Linked DNA regions of Homo sapiens: region 1 is linked to region 2. Evidence: fine-mapped expression QTL. A gene starts in region 2. The other region holds a variant in brackets. All regions are shown on one strand. Distances are between the middles of the regions.

Region 1 (12,073 bases), 150 kb after region 2:
GGAGTATCATTCACACTGTAAAAAGGGCATGCAGTATGAAATACGTATATTGGTGTTGCTGTCTTTGGAAAATACAATCTGCCACTCTTTCTTTTTCCTATAAGCTCTTTCTTTCAATTTTCAAAGACGAAGACATTTGGTCAAATATTCATTTCCAGATAAATATAATTTCAGAGTGCAGCTTCTGGGATAATAGGAAGGTAAGATACTTATGATAGTTCTGATGACTATTTAATCATATGTCTTTCATTTTTTACAGCTGCTCTATAAATGAATATTCTACATGCTGATGAAAAAATTACTTCCCCTTTATATTTATTATGAGTTTCAAAATCACTGAACCAAAGTAAGACCAAACAAAAAGTTGGAATATTCCTCTTAATGCTTTCTCAGTAGTTAGAAAGATAAACAGAAAAAAGAGTGCCTAAAATGGATTTACTGCATTATAGGTTTTCCAATCCAGATGGCCTAGATACAATACTTGCCTATTTGAACAGGATATACGTGTTTATCGCAAGTACCACATTGAAGATGTTTTTAAAGTATGACTCAATATCATACATTCTTCATTATTTCTGTAAAATTTAGCTTCTGAAGGGTAAGACTATATGTGTTGTTTAATCTGACTGTATAGACTGTAAAAAACAATGCAAAATTATTTATACCTTCCTTACCTATAAAACTAAAACTAACATCTGTTTAATTTGTTGTAACTATTTTATTTCACATGCCTGGTGTCATCAATTCTTTTTTCTACCACAAGTTTAACTTCTTTTTTTTTTCTACATTTTAATTATTAACTGTCTTATTTTCAGTATGTTGACTCTTGAAAGATAAATTCAATCCATTTAGGATTAAGTGGCAGTATCAGTCTTGATAACTGTAGTTGCTTTGATGTATTTCAGCAATGGTGTGAAGTGTTAATACTAGCATTTATTGGGAACCTACTGTAGTCTAGGCACCATTCTAAGCACTTCATATTATCTCATTTAATCTTCACTACAACCTTATGAAGTCTGTCATATCACTCTTTCCATTTCACAGGTAAGAAAGGTGAAGTTGAGAAAAGGGAAGAAGCTTGTCCTGGTGAAGCTGTTTGAACCCGGGTGGAATCCAGAGCTTTTACTTTTTTACCGCCATATTGATATGGTTTGGATATTTGTCCCCACCCAAATCTCATGTTGACATGTAATCCCTAGTGGTGGAAGTGGGTCCTGGTGGTAGGTGTTTGGGTCATGAGGGCAGATTCCCTCATGGCTTGGTGCTGTTCTTGCAATAATGAATGAGTTCTCTTGAGATCTGGTCATTTGAAAGTGTGTGGTAACTCCCATTCCCCTCTTGCTTCCGCTCTGCTGCATGAGATGCCTGATCCCACTTTGTCTTCCTCCAAGTATAAATGTGAGCCAATTAAACTTCTTTTTAAAATTACCCAGTTTCAGGTATTTCTTTATAGTAATGCAAGATTGGTCTAGTACAAATACTATAGATGGAATAAGGAATATACTTTGGTTTTGAACTTATATAATGGCCACAAAGTTTCTCTTTATTTTGTGAGGAGCTTTTGATGGGGTGAAATGGCAGTGCCATATCATTTTGAAATTTATCTTAATTATATGAGACATGACTATATCATAGCTTTTCTCTTCTTTGGGTATTTTTGTTACTCTTCTGACATAGTTTCAAGGAAACTGAATTAATTGAAAAAATATCTGATGGCTTTTATATAAAGTGCATGCTTTTTTTCAGTAGCAAGGTAAGCAAGTACATTGTCTTTCCAAAATAATAATGACATGAAAATTTGTAATTGTACGTCTTATCAAACTTCCAGAGCAGCTGACATGCGTACTAATGATACACTGAGTTTTTTAGGATAACCAAGGCTTATAATCTGGTTGGCACTGCTAAAGCAATGAAATTGCTATGCAAGTTGTATCACATCGTTGGCAAAACTTGTCTTAGAATTTATTCCAGAGGCATAAGAACTTACAAGGAGATGTGAAGGGAGTCACAGGAAACAGAGGCCTGGGAATTTTTGAAGGGCAAAGGGATTGTGAATGAATGGCTGAGCAGAGGTTAGGTTTTTTGCAGACCAGACTTTGGGGAGAGAAAAAGCTGAGGGAAATGGATACCTTAGCATGGAGACTGTATTACTCCATTTTTCAGGGGATTAAAGTAGGGCTGAGATGTGTGCAGAGATACTAAGAGGCAAAGAAATAATGTTCTGGAATGGTCCAGTATGCTCCAATACGGATGAAGTTATCTTATGCCTGGTGAGTGAAGCTGTGTAGACGTTAACCAGTGGTCTGTAGAAGGGAATCGAAACCATGCGTCAGCGTGCAGCCACAACGTGTGGAGAGTTTGGCTAGGGGACGGACAAAGGAGCCAGGTCTTTCAAGCTTATTCAGCATCTCTAAAGCCCAGCAGTGGCAATGAAGCTTTAGAGATAGGACGCAGAAATGTGATTAGAAAAATAAAAAGCTGATAAATTCAAATTCCTTGCAGGATTGGGTTCCACTTCATTATTTCATTGTCCCAGCAACTGTTAATGAGAATCAATGGGAATAAGTGTATCTACATTCCCATTACCCCATCAGTTGTTTCCATTTTTTCCGTGTCCATTACTGCTGTTGACAATATGTGTGCATATTTTACATTGTTAAAACATTTCCCAGATACATCTTTGCATAGTGTTTTTATCATCGAACATTGCAACACAATTATTTTTTCATGCTGCTAAAGTCTCCAAGATAATATTTTTAATTATTTTATCATAATTCCATGAACGGATCAATTGCTTAACTATTTCTCTATTAGTGAGCAAAGATAATCATTTCCTGTTATACATAAGCCAATTCTAAATAAATTTGGTTTTCAGAAGGTGTGTGTGCCCAGAGCAGAGTGGCAGAAAAGCAATGTGGTCAGTAAAATTTCACTTAATAAAAGATATTTCATGGTGCTTGCAAAAACTGCAGATTATATTTTTAAAGATTGTACCATAACTTTACACTGTCTGAATGTACTTTTGACATCATTTTTGAATATGATCATTACGTTTTAAATGCAGTTGGTTGTGTATTGCTTTCACAAGAAGACATGGCTTGGAGTAATTTTGAGGCTTCATTTAGATATTCTCAGAAAAGTTTGGGACTTTACTATTATATTATAAAACTAGATGAAAATTTTACATCTTCCACAACGCATTGAGGTTGTGGTTGATGGAAAGGCCTATGACTAAGACTCAACTCTGCAAGCTTACAGAAATTGGCAAATTCAAATCAAGGCCTCCACATCTTAGGTACTTAAAAATGATTAGGAAACTTAGGAAAATCAGGCCTTATGATTGTTTTAAGTGTTTTCCATTTTAAAGCAGATGTCTTGAATTCGCTAGAGTAATTTAGGCCATTTAAAGTATTTACATAGCTGACAAAGTGAGAGCATGACTGCCTGATGTGCAAACAGCTAGTCAGTTCAGTTACAAATCAAGGTTTTTTCAGTCTTCACTGTACTGACTTGATATTCCAGTATTAGTTGGTAAGAAACTGTAATAAATTTATAGATATAAGCAATAAGTTTGAATATTTATTGAGTGTAAAATATATGCTAAGCATGAATCTAAGCATTTTATACCCATTTAGCTTATTTAATTTTAACAACAGTCACCATTTTCTACTATATAGATTAAGCATAGAGATGATGATTTTGATGATATGTATTTTCATGATGAAGATTTTATCATTAGCTGTTATTATTGAGGGCTTATTTTTTCCAGACATTATTTTTGTGCAATCCTTGTAACAAATTCATGAGATAGATAAGTGTTCTTATTTTAGAGATGAAGTATCTGAGGTTAAGTGACTTTTCCAATTCACACAGGTAAGAAGTGAGGAAGTTGGGATTCACTCTAATGTGAACATAGCTGGAGGTCTGTGTACACCAGAGCTCATGCTGCCTTAACCAAGATGATCCCTACTGTTTGAAAGACCACACAAACTTGAAGCTTTGATGTGAACATATGTTTTCTATTTTCATACATTCTTTTAATAATTATGATATTGACACTGCAATTAGTCAACCACAAACATTCTATTTGTACTGAGTCCAGAGATTTGCATGGAGAAACAAAATTAACCTCTTGTATAGGCTGAATGAATTATCTGTCAAATAGAAAATATTAGATCCTGAAGTTAAAAGGTCAAGATACATCTCTGAAGATTTATTACAATGATGAAGACTGAAGTTTTATACTAAGTGGGTTGGAACCATCATTTATTCTATTTCTAGACTGTATTTAGGATCCTAGATTGCCAGAGATAGAAAGATATTAGAGGACAACCAGTTCTAGTTTCTTATTTTACAAATAAAAAATCAAACAAACATGCAAACCAACTATGACTTTATGTTTTGTTTAAATATTCTTCTAAAATTTTTTAAAGAATTTTCTAATTCTTATTTAAATAAATAAGTTTAAGATTGAGCCAATTTAGGCAAAATATATTATTTATATGCATAAAATTAGACTCTGAGGGACTACTTTTGATTCTACAAAGATAGAATAGCCTTACTATTCTATAACTAAAAAAGTTTACATATAACACAACAAATAAGCATAGGAAGACTCTGAGAAGTGAAAAGAAGATGCCAGACTTCATAGGGACTTTAGGACTTGGGGAACAACATGATGATGAGTTCCCAGGGTTTCCTTATTATCTCCCATACACCCTGGTGAGAGTGCTGCAGTGACCTCCAACTCAGTACTGACAATAGACATGGTCTGTTCTGTCAAGCAGTTTTATTTATAATTGCCAAAATCTTTCAAGCAACCAAGATATCCTTCTGTGGGTTAATGGATAAATAAACTCTGGCACACTCCAACAATGAATTATTATTAAGTGCTAAAAGGAAGTGAACTGTCAAGCCGTCTAAAGATCTGGAGGAACCTTAAATGTATATTGCTAAATGAAAGAAGCCAATCTGAAAAGGATATATTTATTTTACAATTCTGATTCTATATCATTTTGTAAAAGAAAAAACTATGTAAACAGTAATAAATATCAGTAGTTGCCAGGGGTTAGAGGGAGGAAGAAATAAATAGGCAGTGCATAGATAATGTCTAGGGCAGTGAAACTCCTCTGTATGATTTTATAACTGTGGAGACATTTCATACATATGTCTAAGTCCATAGAATGTGCAACACTAAGAGTGAACCCTAATGTAAACTATGGACTTTTGTGATTGTAATAGTATCAATGTAGTTTAATAAATTTTAACAAATGTTTTTGTAGTGTGCTCAAAAGCACACTACAAAAGCTTCATAATGCAATCACGAGTATAAATAGCAGAGTAGACCAACTGAAGGAAAGAACCTCAGACAATGAATACTGGCTTTCTGAAATAAGACACTCAGACAAGAATAGAGAAAAAAAATAAAAAGGAATGAGCAAAACCTCTGAGAAATATGGGATTATGTAAAGATAACAAATCTGTGACTCATTAGTGTCCCTGAAAGAGATAGGGAGAATGGAACCAACTTGGAAAGGATATTTTAGGATGTCATTCATGAGAACATTCCCAACCTAGATAGAGAGGCCAACATTTAAACTCGGGAAATGCAGAGAACCCCAGTAAGATACTTCACAAGAATGTCATCCTCAAGACACATCATCGTCAGATTTTCCAAGGCTGAACTGAAAGAATAAATGTTAAAGGCAGCTAGAGAGAAAGGCAGGTCACCTACAAAGGGAAGCCATTAGACTAACAGCAAACTTCTGAGCATAAACCTTACAAGCCAGAAGAGACTGGGGACCAATATTCAATATTCCTAAAAAAATTCCAACCCAGAATTTCATATTTGGCCAAACTAAGCTTAATAAGTGAAGGAGAAGTAGGATTTTTTTCAGACCAGCAAATGCTAAAGAAATTCATTACCACCAGACATACCTTACAAGAGCACCTAAAGGAAGCACTAAATATGGAAAGAAAGGCCATTACTAGCCACTGCAAAAACACGCTGAAGTACACAGACCAGTGACAATAAAAAGCAACCACATAAACAAGCCTGCAAAATAACCAGCTAACAGATGACAGAATCAAATCCACACATGTTAATACTAACCTTAAATGTAAATGAGCTAAACGTCACAATTAAAAGACACAGAGTGGCAAGCTGCATAAAGAACCAAGACACATTGGCATGCTTTCTTCGAGAGACCCATCTCACATGCAATGACACACATAGGCTCAAATTAAAGGGATGGACAAAAATCTACCAAGCAAATGGAAAACAGAAAATAGCGAGGGTCACAAGCCTAGTTCCAGACAAAACAGGCTTTAACTGAGCAAAGATCAAAAAGGACAAAAAAGGCATTACATTATGGTAAAGGGTTCAATTCAACAAGACCAACCTGTTCTAAATATACATGTACCCAACAGAGGAGCACCCAGATTTATAAATCAAGTTCTTGGGGATCTTCAAAGAAACTTAGACTCCCACACAATAATAGTGGGAGCGTTAAACTCCTCACCAACAACATCAGACAGATCACTGAGACAGAATATTAATTAAGATATTCAGGATCTCAACTCAGCACTGGATCACATGGATCTGGCAGACATCAACAAAATTCTCCACC[C/G]CAAAACAACAGGATATACGTTCTTCTCATTGCCACATGGTACACACTCTAAAATTGATTACATAATCAGAAATAAAATACTCCTCAGTAAATGCAAAGGAACTGAGATAATAACAAACAGTATCCCAGACCACAGCACAATCAAATTACAAATAAAGACTAAGAAATTCACTCAAAACCACACAGTTATATTGAAGTTGAATAGTGTGCTGCAGAATGACTTTTGTGTAAATAATAAAATTAAGGCAGAAATTAAGAAGTTATTTGAAACTAATGAGAATAAAGATACAACATACCAGAATCTCTGGGACACAGCTAAGACATGTTAGGAAGGAAAATTATAGCACTAAATGCCCACATAAAACTTAGAAAGATCTCAATTTGACACCCTAAAATCACAGCCAGAGGAACTAGAGAACTAAGAACAAACCAACTATAAAGCTAGCAGAGGACAAGAAATAAAGAAAATCAGATCTGAACTGAAGGGAACTGTGATGGTTAATAGTGAGTAACAACTTGATTGGATTGAAGGATATAAAGTATTGATCCTGGGTGTGTCTGTGAGGGTGTTGCCAAAAGAGATTTAGCATTTGAGTCAGTGGGCTGGGGAAGGCAGATCCACCCTTAATCTGGTGGGTACAATCTAATCAGCTGCCAGCAAATATAAAGCAGTCAGAAAAACCTGAAAAGGAGAGGCGGGCCTAGCCTCCCAGCCTACATCTTTCTCAAGTGCTGGATGCTTCTTGCCCTAGAACATCAGGCTCCAAGTTCTTCAGTTTTGGGACTCGGGCTGGCTCTTTTTGCTCCTCAGCTTGCAAACAACCTATTGTCGGACCTTGTGATTGTGTAAGTTAATACTTAATAATACCTTTTTATACATATATATCTATCCTATTAGTTCTGTCCCTGTAGAGAAACTGACTAATACGGGCATTGAGACATACACACAAAAAAACCATCGAAAAGATCAATGAATCTAGGAACTGCTTTTTGGAAACAATTAATAAAATAGATAGATTGATAGCTAGACTAAGAAAGAAAAAAGTAGAGAAGATCCAAATAATCACAATCAGAAACAACAAGGGGGATATTACTACTGAACCCACAGAAATACAAATATCCATCAGAGGATATTATGAACACCTCTATGCACATAAACCAGAAAATCTAGAAGAAATGAATAAATTCCTGGACACATATACACTCCCAAGACTGAACCAGGAAGAAATCCACCAAAATGTCCATCAATGAGAGATTAAATAAAGAAAATGTGGTGCATATACACCACAGAATACTATGCAGCCCTAAAAACTAGCAAAATTATATCCTTTGAAGGAACATGGATGGAGCTGGAGGCCATTATCCTTAGCAAACTAATGCCGGAACACAAAACCAAATACTGCATGTTCTCACTTATAAGTGGGAACAAAATAATGAGAGCACGTAGACACATAGAGCAGAGCAATAGAGTGGCCTATCAGAGGGTGGAGGTTGGGATGATGGAGACGACCAGAAAAAATAACTAATGGATACTAGGCTTAATGGGTGGGTGAGGAAATAATCTGTATGACAAACCCCCATGAAACGTTTACCTATATAACACTATGTAACAAACCTACATATTACTCCTGAACTTCAAATAAAAGTTAAAGGAGAAAAAGTAATGACAATACCAACTGCTGGCAAGAATCCAGAGTAACAGAACCACTTAGTTATAACCGAATAAAATATTAAAAGGCAAAGAAGCCACTCTACAAAGCAGTTTGGCACTTAAAAAAAAAGAAACAATAAAAAGTAACAACAAAAGCTATACATACAACCGTGCATTTGTCCCAGAGAAACGGAAACATATGTTCACACAGATTTCAGAATATTACTCAGCAATAAAATAGAATAAAACATTGACACATAAAACAACCTGCATAGACTCCGAAATATTATCCTGAGTGGAAAAGAATCCCAAATGTTACATAGTATATAATTTTATTTATGAAATGTTCTTGAAATATCAAAATTATAGAAAATATGAGTTTCATGGTTATTGGGGTTACTGAGGGAATGGTAGCAGTAGACAGGTGTGTGTGTGGCTATGAAAGGGCAATATGAGGTTTTATTGTGATGAACTAATCTGTATCTTGACTGTACCAACATCAGTATCCTGGAGGTGATATTGTAGCATAGTTTTAAAGAAGCTACCACTGGGGGAAAGTAGGTAAAGAGTACAGGGAAATTTGTCTGTATTATATACTACAAGTGCATGTGAATTAAATGTTATTTAAAAATGAAAAGTCAGCGATATAGTTTAGCTATTTGTCCCTGCCCAAATCTCATGTTGAACTGCAATTCTCAATGCCTGGTTGGAGGTGTATGGATCAAGGGGATGGATCATTTACAGCTTGGTGCTATCTTTGTGATAGTTCTCATGAGATCTGATCATTTAAAAGTGTGTGGCACCTCCCTCTCACTCTCTCTTGCTTTCACTATGTGATTTGTCCTGCTTTCACTATGTCATTTGCTTGCTTCCCCTTCACCTTCTGTATTGAGTAAAAGGTCCCTGAGGCCTCCCCAGAAGCTAAATTATGTTAGCACCATCCTTGTACAGCCTGCAGAACTATCAGCCAATTAAACCTTTTTTCTCATAAATTAACTAATTTTAGGTATTTCTGTATAGCAATGTAAGAATAACTTAACACAGTTAATTTAAAAATACTGTAGACATTAGCATTATTAAAAATTACCAAAAGGTAGAAGCAACTCCAATTCATATCAACTGATGAACAGATAAATGAAATGTGGTATATGTATACAATGAAACATTATTCAGGCATAAAAGGAATGAAGTACTGATATATTATACAGTATGAATGAATCTTGAAAAAATTAAGTGAAATAAACTAGTCACAAAAAACAAATACTATATGATTACATTTATATATGTAAAATATTACATATATGTAATATTATATATAATATTTTACATCTATATGTTACTGTCCAAAATAGGCAAATACATAAAGACAGAAGGCAGGTTAGTGGTTGCCAGGGCCAGGGGAGAATGGGGAGTGATTAAGTGATACATTAGTTTTGGAATTTCCTTTGTAGTGATGAAAAGGTACTGTAACTAGGTGGTGTTGATGGTTGCACAACGTTGTGAATATACTCAATACCACTTAGATGTACACTTTAAAATATTTAATTTGGTAAATTTCATGTGTATTTCAAAACACAATAAAAAGAAAAAATGAAATAGAAAATGAGACATCAATATATTAAAATATTCATTTCCGGGTAAGTGGGTTATAAATGATTTATTTTCTATTTTATACACTTGTACTTTCTGAATATTTTAAATGAGTATATATTAATGTTATCATCATAAAAACTTAAAGAAAAATGGCAATGCATATGCACTAATACTAAACCTAGCATTTAAGGAAAGTTGAAGTCAGTGAAGTGAAAAGAAGAAAAGCTATTTAAAACAGACTTTTTATTATGGAAAATGACAAACACAAACAAAACATTGACTAGTGTAATTAGCTTCTATTTACCCGTCGCTCAGCTTAAATATTCATCAACTCATGAGCTATATGATTTGTTTTCATCCCCACCCACTGAGAAAGCATTAATAAGTGTTGTTGTGCTGTGGGTGGAGAGAACATGGACCTAAAGGTAGACATATTTGTATTTTAATCTCAATTCTGTCATTTATTATCTGACTTGGCAGTCCAGACACCTAGAATAAATGCTAGTTCTCTTTACTGATCTGTGAGTTTCTGACTGGTTGCATAAACTACTTCCTCCTCTGTCAAAAATGATAATGTTTGTGTGTCATAAGTGAAATGACACGGGGAAAAAGAAACAAAAATATATATGTATTAGTCTCTTCTCACACTGCTAATAAAGACATACTCGAGATTGGGTAATTTATAAAGGAAAGAGGTTTAATTGAATCACAGATTCACATGGCTGGGGAGGCCTCGCAATCATGGTAGAAGACAAATGAAGAGCAAAGTCATGTCTCATATGGCAGCAGAGAAGAGAGTTTGTGTAGGGGAACTCCCTTTTATAAAACCATCAGATCTCATGAGACTTACTATCATGAGAAGAGTACAGGAAAGACCTGTCCCCATGATTCAATTACCTCCCACTGGGTCTCTCCTATGATGTGTGGGAATTATGGGAGCTACAGTTCAAGATGAGATTTAACTGAAGACAGTGCCAAACCATATCATTCTGTCCCTAGCCCTTCCTAAATTTTACGTCTTCAGATTTCAAAACCAGTCATGACTTCCCAGCAGCCCTCCAAAGTCTTAACCCATTTCAGCATTAACTCAGAAGTCCACAGTCCAAAGTCTCATCTGAGACAAGGCAAGTCCCTTTCACCTATGAGCCTGTAAAATGAAAAGCAAGTTAGTTCCTTCCAAGATACAAGGGGGTACAGGCGTTTGGCAAATTCACCCATTCCAAATGGGAAAAATTGGCCAAAAAAAGTGGCTGCAGGCCCCATTAAAGTCTGAAATCTAACAGGGCAATGAAATCTTAAAGCTCCAAAATGATCTCCTTTGACTCCGTGTCTCACATCCAGGTCACATCAATGCAAGAGGTGGGGTCACATGGCCTTGAGCAACTCTGTCCCTGTGGCTTTCATGGTACAGCCCCCCTCCTGGCTGCTTTCATGGGCTGATGCTGAGTGTCTGTGTCTTTTCCAGGAACATGGTGCAAGCTCTTGGTGGATCTACCATTCTGGGGTCTGGAGGACAGTGGCCCTCTTCTCACAGCTCCACTAGGTAGTGCCCCAGTGGGAACTCTGTGGGGGCTCTGACCCCACATTTCCCTTCTGCACTGCCCTAGCAGAGGTTCTCCATGAGGGCTGTGCCCCTGCAGCACACATCTGCCTGGACAGCCAGGTGTTTCCATATATCCTCTGAAATCTAGGCAGATGTTCCCAAACCTCAATTCTTGACTTCTGTGCAACCACAGGCTCACCACCACACGGAAGCTGCCAATGCTTGAAGCTTGCACCCTCTGAAGCCACGACCCAAGCTGTACCTTGGCCACTTTTAGCCACAGCTGCCGTGGCTGGGATGCAGGGCACAAAGTCCCTAGGTTGCATACAGCAGGGAGGCGTCTTGGGCTCAGCCCAGGAAAGCATTTTTTTTTCTTCCTAGGCCTTCAGGTCTGTGATAGGAGGCACTGCCACAAAGGTCTCTGACATGCCCTGGAGACATCTTTCCCATTGTCTTGGTGATTAACATGAGGTTCCTTATTACTATTGCAAATTTCTGCAGCAGGCTTAAATTTCTCCCCAGAAAATGAGGTTTTCTTTTCTAATGCATAGCCAGGCTACAAATTTTTTGAACTTTTATGTTCTGCTCCCTCTTGAATGTTTTGCCAGTCAGAAATTCCTTCTGCCGGATACCCTAAATTATTTCTCTCAAGTTCAA
Region 2 (12,073 bases):
AGCTAGGGACAACACTGTGGTTCCCGAGATAGAGTGGAACACGATAAAAACAGAAAGATTTTTATCAACTTACTATCTCTCTGATAAAGCTTCAGTTGGTGTTATGGAACTTTTACAGCCCATAAGAGTAATTCTCACACTAGACTGTTTAGCTATTAACTTCCTATTTTTTATTTTATGATCTTTATTATCTTTGAGTTGTCTGAGGGCTGTTGAGCTTGTGGCTGGGCCCTAATCTTTGACAGTGAGATTTCTCCAAGTTAGAGAATATATAGAAAAGAGACACTATTTTGTCAGCATCCCTGGCTTAGCAATATTCTAAACCACATAGGTAGTTCTAGTTAGCCATAGGGACAAGTACCCATTAGGGGCCAAAGTTACAAAGACCCTGCAAAACAACATACCCCTCTTTATTATTATTCTAGAAATAATAATTTCTGAGTGAAGTGTTATTTGAAAAATTAGCCAATGCCTTGCTACACAGACTGTAATACATTCACACCTGATGCCTGAGTTTCTGAAAAGGACACCAGGTTACCAGCTGTACTATAAAGAAGTCTGAGCAAAATGGAAGGTCAGGTTAATTGATATAACCTAATCAAATAATCAACTAGTCTCACATTTTCCAATTCATTTGGTATCCTATTTTATAACAATCCTTTTGTCTTAACTGGAATAAGTCTAGGGATGAACACTACTGCTTTGCTTGGTGTGGTGGTTAATAATGAGCGTCAACTTGATTGGATTAAAGGATGCAAAGTATCGATCCTGGATGTGTCTGTGAGGGTGTTGCCAAAGGAGATTAACATTTGAGTCAGGGGGCTGGGAAAGGCAGACCCACCCTTAATGTGGGTGGGCACCATCTAATCAGCTGCCAGGGAATGTAAAGTAGGCAGGAAAATGTAAAAAGGTGAGACTGGCTTAGCCTCCCAGCCTACATCTTCCTCCCATGCTGGATGCTTCCTGCCCTTGAACATCAGACTCCAAGTTCTTTAGCCTTGCGACTCAGACTGGATTCCTTGCTCCTCAGCTTGCAGACAGCCTAATGGGGGACCTTGCGATCATGTGAGTTAATACTACTTAATAAACTCCCATATATATATATATATATATATATATATATATATATATATATATGTATATATAAAATATATAAGTGTGTGTATATATATATGTGTGTGTGTGTGTGTGTGTGTGTGTGTGTGTATATATATTAGTTCTGTCCCTCTAGAGAACACTGACTAATACACATGGCTTCATTTGGTGATAGTGAAAGTGATTATCCCTAATAAGGAACATTTGAGACATCATCACAGATTCAGAATCAACTCAGGTATGAGAGTTGAAAGAGCAGAATGGATAGAACAAGGCTACTACTGGCAAAAGGTAAAATCAGTTGATTCAAGAGACCTTGTCATGCATAATTGATGTGAACTGTTTTTAATGTCATTTATTTGTTTATTCCTGTGCTGAGTATTCATACTTTAATACTTGAAAACATTTATGTCTCAAGTATTCATCTTTGGAAAATTTATTCTGCTTTCAAATCTATCCCTTTCTCTTTTTTTGAGACAGGGTCACTCTGTCGCTCAGGCTAGAGTGCAGTGGCTTGATGATGGCTCACTGCAGCCTTGACCTCCTAAGCTTGAGCGATCCTCCCACCTCAGCCTCCCTAGTACCTGGGACTACAGGTGCACCCCACGATGCCTGGCTATTTTTTTAAATTTATTTTTTAAAGAGATGGCTTTTCACCTTGCTGCCCAGACTGTTTGTCTTGGCATCCCAATGTGCTGAGAATACAGGCGTTAAGTCACCCTGCCCAGCTTTCAAGTCTATTCTGCTTTCAAAGTTAAAAATTCCCTAATCCCCCTGTGAAAACGAAAATGTGGTGTACTGGAAAAACCTCAAAGATCTGGGGTCAAATCTTGACCATCACTTACTCACCATGTGACCTCGGGCAAACTGTTTACCTTCCCTGAATTTTATTTTATTTTATTTTATTTTATTTTATTTTATTTTATTTTGAGAGAGTCTCAGTCTGTTGGCTGGGCTGCAGCGCAGTGGCATGGCCACAGCTGATGGCAGCCTTGACCTCCTGGGCTCAAGTGATCCTCCCGCCTCAGCCTTCCAAGCAGCTGGGGCTACAAGCATGTGCCACCATGCACCACTGATTTTTGTATTTGTTGTAGAGACGATTTTTCCCATGTTGCCCAGGCTGGTTTTGAAATCCTGGGCTCAAGTGATCTCCCCACCTCAGCCTCCCAAAGTGCTGGGATTACAGGAATGGGCCACCATGCCTGGTCACTTAACCTCATTTTTAAAATAAGTATGATAATCCCTTCCTTGTTCATAGAACTAAATGAAATAATATTTGTAGGCAGCACAGCAAAGAAGAGGCACTCAACAGACAGTAGCTACTATTGAATGGGTTAATTATGATCTGAAAACTTCCTTTCATGTTCTAAATTCCAGAAAATTTGTAAAAATGGGCTATTAGTATGTTTTTCAAATTATATAGATAGAAAAAAGGGTTCCATTGTTAAGTAAGTCTGTGAAATGCCACATGCCATATCCCTTTTCCCTTGGTAAATAAAAGCTCATTTAAACATAATTAATTGTGTTGAAAAATCCCAAAGTAAAAATAAAATGTTTAGCTTTACGGAACCAAGGGTCTTTTAAACTTATTTGATCATGGAAACATTTCTTCCCAGAAGATATATTAACATCCTAAGAACTTTCTTGTATTCCACTTAGAGAAATAGCAAGTGTGTGACCGGACACGGTGGCACACGCCTGTAATCCCAGAACTTTAGGAGGCCGAGATGGGCGGATCACCTGAGGTCAGAAGATTGAGAACAGCCTGGACAACATGGTGAAACTCCATCTCTACTAAAAATACAAAAATTAACCGGGCATGGTGGCACATGCCTGTAATCCCAGCCACTCAGGTGGCTGAGGGAGGAGAATTGCTTGAACCCAGGAGGCAGAGGTTGCAGTGAGCCGAGATCACACTAACGCACTCCAGCCTGGGTGACAGAGTGAGACTCTGTCTCAAAAATAAATAAATAAAAATGAAAGAGAAATAGCAAGTTTGTAACTGTTAAAATGCCAGAATATAAATAAATCTTCAATATTAAAATACACTGAATCATCTGTGATACCTGGATACGAAAATTAAGGCTGATTTGATTTTGAGCAGCAGCCTAAGACAAGGCAAGATAAATGAGGAATACAGTGAAAGTGAAAGACCGCTGACTAGGGCCAAGACTTGGCATTATAATCACTTTCGGTTGGTAGTGTTTTAATGACTTAATTCCAAACTGCCTTCGGAACGGAGGGTATACAGGATCTTGTTGAAATTCTTAGTGCAGTTGTTTTTTTCCCTGATGGAGGGAGACACAGTATATCAGTGTAGACCTACGATTCTGGTTGTACTCCTAAAAAGTCAAGATGAAATAAGGTAAAACATTTGGAGGAAGACCGTGAGAGTATTGCAAAACTCACAATATTTGCATGCTTACATTTTAGGAAGAACATCAATTTTGTTTTTCTTTCAATGGCCATAAATAGTGCTGGAGTTTTCTTAACACTTTTATTTATGTATATATTCACTTCCTTTGTTAAGCTAGCAATTCTGTGTCATTTCCTACTGTTCTATTGGGATGTCACCTGTAGTTCTAGGGGACGGAAAAGGGACTGTGGGACTAAAGGATTGGGTTAATTACTTTGAAAGCAAAATAAGCATAAAACATGGAAGTTGTTACTTCTGTTTTATTTTATGAGTGTCCACTTTATCTTTTTAAGTAGCAAAACATTTTATTTTAAAGCATTCATTTAAAAAAGTTGAATATTAATCACAGATAAGTTCTTAGGAATATTATGAATTGTAATTTATCGATGATCTAGCTACAGTGGCTTTCAGATTTGTCTCCATATCCATATGAAAAATAACATTTCACAGTTATTGCAGTTAAATATAGCCAAGTCTCAGAACAGTTTCTAAAGTTGAATAAAGATAGGCATTTAAATCATCTGATATTTACTGTCCAAATCTGGCCTTTTCAGTTATCACATTACTTAGAATTTTCAGGTAAACTTTTTTTGCTCATTCTATTGACTCTTGTTAACATTTGTAGTAAAAGACAAACATTTCACCTATCTGGATAAAATATATTCAGCTTCCTGAATTGTTAGCATTTAGAATAAATGCCAACTTGTTTTGATACCCATTACTACTTTCAAACTGCATTACACAATAAAATGCAAATGTGAGTTATTAATTAGCAGGATCTGTTTTGTCCAAGTGTGCAAGAGTAGAGGGATTTTTCAACATTCTGCAGCTGTTACCTATGAAGGAAACATCATTCACTTTGCTAAAAGGAGCTGCACAATTACATACGCTGTTATAGACAAATATTTTAGTGTTTCCTTAATGCTATTTCATAATGGATTTCACATTGAATAAGATAAATTTTACCAATGCTGCCCAATTTCTGTCTCTAGGTTGTTTGTAAAAGAGAGGATGATTACAGTTTTCAAGGCAATGTGGAGTGAAGGTAGAGAAAGAGTTCTTCATGAACGACACAATATTTAGCAAGGTCATAAAGAAATATGCCCATACACGCATATCTATTTAAGTATTCATTTACATATTGTACGTGCATCTCTGTATACATGTTGTGCCCGGTGAACATTTGTGTGAATATAACCTGACGGAAGTCCCATAAAATGACAAAAAATGAAAAACAATGAAACATGTATATGAATGACTACTATAGATGATACAGAAGGTAGACCATTATTCACAAATAATGTAATAAATCCTTTGCCCATCAGATGTTTCTACCTAGATTTGGGGCCTTTAAACATCAACCAATTATGGTAAATGTTTAACTGTAGGAGTTCAGGCAGACAGCCAAATTCTGGTTTCAAAGCTGTTGCTAGTTTTAGCTTAAAGATTTTTTTTTTCATTTTTAAGCAAGAACATTTCTGGATACCGGTTGTGCTCTATTGTGGCTAGAGCCGCTGGGATTTGAATAAGTAAATTGGGCAACACACTGGTCCTGAAGAAATGGGCCTGGCAGTATTACCTGAATGTGGCAAATAATAGGCTACCAAGAGTCCTAGGGAAATACTTCCCATTTATAACTTAGCTCTACTTACCTAAAGCTAGTTTATTCCCACAGACACGAAGAGAGAGAGAGTTGTTTTTCTTAGCCAAGCTCCTACAAAAAACAGCAAGGTTGGGGGATGGGAGCACATCCAATGTTTATGCCTTTTGTTTAGGAAAGCCAGGTATCTGAAATACATACATGATAGCCAACTCCTCTCTGCTCCCCTCCCCCAGGTTTATTTATTTTCTTAACAAGCTTATTAACGAAATTATCAATTTGCATGAAACTGGTTTGAACATTGGCCCTTCCTCAGAATATTTCTTATCTCTTGTGGAAGCACTAACAAAAAGGGTAGAAGAAGGGGCCTAGACAATCCACACGTTGGATTTGCAGCCACTGGATATTTCAGATTCAGCTGCTAAAGCCTCTTTGGTATACACAATGAGGGGCGACTGAAGTGACTTTTCTTAGTCCATTTCCTCTCCTTCTCCCCGTCTCCCGAAGGTACTCCGTGGGTCCCTTCCCTTTCTCTCTTCACAGTCCCTCCTGAGCAGTCCCAAAGCTTCAAACCTTGTTCTCCAACCCCCTTTCCCTAATGTCTCCCAACTACCACCCCCTTCCCCAGTCAAACTCCCCTCCCGGTCACCACCAAAGCCCGGAGAAGTGGAATGCACACAATGCCTCCCTTATAGGGCTTGAGCTGGGAACTGGGCATGCTCAGTAGCCAAAGTAGTTTTTTTTTTTTTTTTTCTTTTGGTCGCAAGTGCGGCATCTCTCCCAGTCCCACGCCTCTCTTTCCTCAACCCCTATCCCCTATCCCCTATCCCCACCCCCAGCTCCAAGATCATCCGGCTTAACCCATTCTGCACCAAAGGCCCACGGAGTTCTAAGGTGCGGATAATTAACCCGTCTCCTTCTAACCCGGCTAAATAGTCTCACTTTAGGCTAAAGCCTCACACTTTCGCCTTAAAGCCCCTGGCCCCTTACGCGCAGACAGGTAGGGGGAGTGCGAATACTACTGGATCCTAGGAAATTGGTTCCCAAGAAGGCTCCTTCCAGGATCGACCGCCACGGAGAAGTATTCCAGGAGCCCTCCGTTCTGCGGGGTGACAATTAGCCAAAGGTACCGTACCCGTGATACAAAATCCAAGTATGATTGTTGCATTTGAATGTCATTGTTGTTGACTCATTCCCCTCCATCCTGTAATTATTCAATTCCGCGTAGACTCGACGACCCTATCGATCTCCCTCGGCCCCCCTCCCCCAGGCTCTCCAGTGTTTCTTTGGCTTTTCCTGGCTTCTTGGTTGCTCTCTCAAAGGAATGCCCCGTGTGTGTGTGTGTGTGTGTGTGTGTGTGTGTGTGTGTGTGTGTGTGTTCCTTCGTTATTAGGGGACTGGAAGAGAAGAAAAGGGCTCGAGTGTGTGTGTATGTGGTGGGGGGGATGGAGGCGAGTGCGCCCTTGTTAGAGGACTGGGGTCTCCACGCCTGAGGAAAGGGGTCGCTCCTCCCTAGGGAATGTTTTAGGCAAAAAGAGGGGGCGGATGCCGGGAGGAAAGCGCGCTGTCTTTCTGGGTGTGTGGGTAGAAGAGGAATCAAATGGGCATGTCTGGATGGGGGACGGGGGTAGGAGCTCAGGAATGTGAGGGGGTCAAAGTGGTCGAGTGTCGGGAGGAAGGACTGCTTGTGTGCGGGGTGGGGGGGGGTGGTGGAGAGCGGGGGCGGGGATTCAGCGCGTGTATGTAAAGGTGCAGCCCGTGTGCTAGGCGCTGGGTGCGCGCGCGGTGTCTGCTCGGGTGCGCGCGCGCGCCGCTGCCCGCCTGCCCGCCGGCCCGCCTGCTCGCCTGCTGGGGCTGCTCCGTGGGTTTGACGGGCGAGCGGGCGCGGAGGAGCTCTGTCCGGAATCACATAGATACCATCGTGGAAACAGCAGCGCAGGTCACGGCGCCGCGGGCCCTGCACCAGACGCTGGGCTCTAGAGGTGGGTGAATTTTCAGCGGGGGCTGCACAAGCTGCACCGACACGCGTGCTGCCTCTTCCCCGCTCAGCTCAGTAGCGCGTGTGCGTGCGTGTGTGTGTGTGAGAGAGAGACAGAGAGAGAGAGAGAGATCTCGCGCGCGCGCACGCGAGCCGAGGGGGCAGGTAGCTTATTATTTTTAGTTTGGGTCCTGTTGGTTTGGGGCCGGTTGAGTGGCCAAAGTGGCCGAGGTGGCTAATCCTGCCCTCCACCTCCCACTTGCCTGCCTACGACGCGGTCTCATGCCGCTGAGGACCGGAAAGGATCCGGGTGTCCTTGGCATCGCTGCCCGCCCCCCCCCCCACCATACCCCAAGCGGCCAGGGCGGCGGGGCAAGTTGTACAGGTCTCGGGTGGCTCCGGCTGTCGGGCCGCTGGGCTGGGTTGGGCTTTATTTTTGCACCCCACTCGCAGCCACTTTCCGCAGACGTGGATCTGAGGCTCGGGGCAGTGGCCCGCGGGTTGGTCGGAGATTGCTAGCGCTCGGCAAGACTAGGAATACCAGAGGAAGAGCCGGTGGGTAACTCTAAAAGCTCTGCAAAGCCAGGCGAGCGCTGCCAGCGCGACTTTGCAAGGGGCCTAAATGTTGAGCTGATTTCTGGCATGGTGAGAGCAGGATTTTTGTAGCTGGCCAGGGAGGGAGAACAGGCAAGGGGGAGCCTGGGCCGCCGCTCGCAGCCACAAAACCACAGGGTCACTCTGCCCGTGGCAAGCAGGTCAGTGACTCCCTAGTGCCAACGTCTTCGAGGCGGCCTGATCTGGCCTCTCTTCCTCCTCACCCACCGCACGCCTGGGTCTAGAGAGGTCCACTGAAACTCCGGCAGCTGCCCCTTGTGGGACGGGAGCGCGCGGAGAAATGTGTGAGCGGCGGGACTGAAGGCCCCCGCGACATCCCGCGCGGTACCCCGCCTCCGCTACACGGACCGCCAGGCTGCTGCTTGGGCCCCTGACGCGGAGGGGGCTGAGCGGCCGGCTCCGGGAACAGGGATGCGGCAAAACATTGCGGTACGCGCTAGCAGCCCCTCCAGCCTCCTCGCCGCCCGCCCGAGGTAGCGCACCCGGGCGGCAATGGCCGGGTCTCTCCGCGAACCTCTTCCACCTCCATCCGAGCCTTAGGCGGGCCAGCGGGGTTTCCCGAGGGAGCTCTCGGGGAGCCACCTCGGCCCACCGCCCTGAAGCCCATCAGTGTTCTGCCCCCCTCAGGCCGCTTCTCTCCTCCCAGTCGCGGAGTGCCAGGCGCTGCACTCCGGTGGATGCAGGATTTGTTTTTGGTCGGGCTAGGTTTGTTCAGTCCTGGCTGGTCGTGAGAGCCAAGGGTCTTTCAGGGCACCGAGAGGAAGACGGACAGCTCCCAGCAGCCACAGAGAAGGCTCTTGGTACCCAGCTGGTACTTTGTGGGCTTTTTCTTTTCTTTTTTGCGTTTTTCCCTTGATGTTTAAATGTGCATGTTTCAGTGGTACCACCGGAGTGTGAGGCTTTATTCGCATACATTCAGTGCTCCCTTTACCCTCTTTGTAGCTCCCTTCTCCGAGTTCTTTTTCTTCCTTTCTCCACATTTCCATGGTCTCTTGCCCTTTCAGTACCTCTTTTCCTCTCTCCTTGGTGGACCAACTGGACTCTTTCTCTCTCTTGCCTGCCCCTCCAGCTGCTTGTGGCTTCCTCTGTTTCACAAGAGCTGCATTTGGGAACTTCCTGGCTCTTACTAGTGCCTTTTCCCCCCCTTGCTACTTAAAGTAGCAATCACCAGGAGGAGGGCAGCTCCTTATGCATTTTCAGATGTGTTGAGATTCCTGGTTCTTGTTTTTGTACTGAATTCGGATTATAAGGATTTTTTTTTTTCTGCGTTTGGTTTTTAGTTTGGTTGCTTTTGGGTTTCTTTGTTTTGAGGTGGGTGGGGTGGTGGTTTAGTAACAAGAAATGACTCAACTGAACCAAAATAGCTGTTGAAAACCACATTCATAACAAGGCAAAAAATATCAAGTGAAATTTTGATTTTACAATGAAAGTTGCTTTAGGTGATGTCATAGTTAAGAATTATGACTTCTTTTTGCAATGCCAATCATGCTCTCATGGTGAATAGGGGAAATGCACGTCTATATGGCAGCCAAATAGCATCTCAGCAGTGCTGGCTGTATTCTGAACCAAACTACTTAAAATGCAAATCCTCCTGGGTCATGGCTAATGGGTTGTCTACCTTGAGACATGTTCGGTTTTACCACTAGCTGATTCCTCGTGGGTAAAATAAACAAAGGAGTTTCTGTGCGACACTTCTTTCTTTGCATCATTTCCTTGTTGTGTGTTCCTGGGTATTTTATGTATTTAATTAATATTTGGAGATAACGATATTGAAATTGCACCCAGCTTCCCATTCACAATGGAAAAGACTAATATTGCTAAAATAGTATCAATAAAATGCACTCTGCTTGTGTTGTTTAATCTTTTCCAGGAAGCATCGTGTATGTTTGTGTATATATGCAGTATTTAAGGACCTGAAAACGATGAGTTATTTTGCTAAGCATTAAACTCTACCAACAAGTGATTCTTTATGCGTTTACAGTCAGGGACATGGGGTGGTAATATTAGGAAGGGCGGGTGGGTGTTTGGAACTGATGATTTTAGGACGAAAAATGTGCTGTACTGAACATATTTGGTGCTGTAGCAAAAGCTACTCAAAGATTGTGTTGTGTGAACTCCCCTTCCTCAGCAGTTGCAGTCTGTGGTCAAAGTGAAAGAGATAAAGCAGTTAAGCCGAGGATCAGTCGGACCTGGGTTCAAAATGGTAAATAAAGATGTGGGAGAGGGCCAGGGAGGCAAGAGAGCCAGTTCTCAAAGTGGAAAGACTGCCTGGAGATTAGCTAAGCAATGCAGGAGTAAGCAGGTTACTCTGCTGCTTTCAGAGGCTCCAAGACAAAAGGCTTTTTGCTCCCTCTTTGGGAGATGACTGACAGGAAATTAGAGACTGTTTATTTACCAGAAAATAAAATTTGGCCATCCCTTACTCAGTTGTTTTTCTAGAACCGCACAGCGTCGTCTGTGTCTTTGAAGGCAGCAGTGTACAGGAGTAAACCGATTGACAGCAATGAACTTACCTATGGGGCTACAGCACAAGCAAATCTCTTCCCAGGTCACTGTTCCTTAGTCTTTTAACAGTCCCTGCTACAGCAGCCCAATCCTCCCATTTCCATCCTCCAGTGAACTCTGGGCTCTAATGTTTTTGTTTTTGTTTTTTTAATTCAGCCTCTCTATCTAGCTGAAGCTTAGAGAATAGATATCCACTAATCAAAATGGCTTTGTGGTACAAACTCGATGGCATACTTGATGGTCTCGGTCATTTGAAGTGCAAGTAGGAAGCTTAAGGCCTGTGTTCAAGGGCAGAGTTTGACGGTCCACGTGGAAAAAATATTTTCAGATTGCAAGATTTAAGCATGATTGATAATATATTTTCCTACTGTTAGTTGTGTGTTCTGCACATGTGAATTTGGTATAAACCACAGGTATGGAAAATAAAATGTATGGCAGTTTTAGTGGTTATTATTGTTCGACTGAGTGAGACTATTTGGAGGTTTGATTGCCTTACAAATACAACTCTGGTAATTATAGCCATGTGTTCACTATGGTATGATTTACATACAAGTAATTTTTCAAGTAATGACCATTGAAAAAATGTTTTCTTTTTATTTTTTAGATTATTTCTCTTTATTCAGAAGCATACAGTTGTTTGCTGATTGCAAGAAGATGTTTCTGTGGCTGTTTCTGATTTTGTCAGCCCTGATTTCTTCGACAAATGCAGATTCTGACATATCGGTGGAAATTTGCAATGTGTGTTCCTGCGTGTCAGTTGAGAATGTGCTCTATGTCAACTGTGAGAAGGTTTCAGTCTACAGACCAAATCAGCTGAAACCACCTTGGTCTAATTTTTATCACCTCAATTTCCAAAATAATTTTTTAAATATTCTGTATCCAAATACATTCTTGAATTTTTCACATGCAGTCTCCCTGCATCTGGGGAATAATAAACTGCAGAACATTGAGGGAGGAGCCTTTCTTGGGCTCAGTGCATTAAAGCAGTTGCACTTGAACAACAATGAATTAAAGATTCTCCGAGCTGACACTTTCCTTGGCATAGAGAACTTGGAGTATCTCCAGGCTGACTACAATTTAATCAAGTATATTGAACGAGGAGCCTTCAATAAGCTCCACAAACTGAAAGTTCTCATTCTTAATGACAATCTGATTTCATTCCTTCCTGATAATATTTTCCGATTCGCATCTTTGACCCATCTGGATATACGAGGGAACAGAATCCAGAAGCTCCCTTATATCGGGGTTCTGGAACACATTGGCCGTGTCGTTGAATTGCAACTGGAAGATAACCCTTGGAACTGTAGCTGTGATTTATTGCCCTTAAAAGCTTGGCTGGAGAACATGCCATATAACATTTACATAGGAGAAGCTATCTGTGAAACTCCCAGTGACTTATATGGAAGGCTTTTAAAAGAAACCAACAAACAAGAGCTATGTCCCATGGGCACCGGCAGTGATTTTGACGTGCGCATCCTGCCTCCATCTCAGCTGGAAAATGGCTACACCACTCCCAATGGTCACACTACCCAAACATCTTTACACAGATTAGTAACTAAACCACCAAAAACAACAAATCCTTCCAAGATCTCTGGAATCGTTGCAGGCAAAGCCCTCTCCAACCGCAATCTCAGTCAGATTGTGTCTTACCAAACAAGGGTGCCTCCTCTAACACCTTGCCCGGCACCTTGCTTCTGCAAAACACACCCTTCAGATTTGGGACTAAGTGTGAACTGCCAAGAGAAAAATATACAGTCTATGTCTGAACTGATACCGAAACCTTTAAATGCGAAGAAGCTGCACGTCAATGGCAATAGCATCAAGGATGTGGACGTATCAGACTTCACTGACTTTGAAGGACTGG

The links. PIP is the estimated chance that this variant, and not a neighbour inherited with it, causes the effect.
Region 1: its variant is fine-mapped to the expression of SLITRK4 in whole blood (TOPMed, PIP above 0.99). The same link has a PIP of 0.9 or more in lung.

What each region holds. Positions count from the first base shown.
Region 1 is chrX:143,476,569-143,488,641 of GRCh38, reverse strand. No RefSeq gene overlaps it. Among named protein-coding and RNA genes, the nearest start is that of SPANXN3, 35 kb to the left of the region's middle. The variant C/G (reference allele first, on the strand shown) is at 6,630.
Region 2 is chrX:143,629,899-143,641,971 of GRCh38, reverse strand. It overlaps SLITRK4 (SLIT and NTRK like family member 4), which reads left to right and starts at 5,871. Exons shown (of 2, transcript NM_001184749.3): 1 at 5,871-6,237; 2 at 10,814-12,073. The coding sequence starts at 10,864.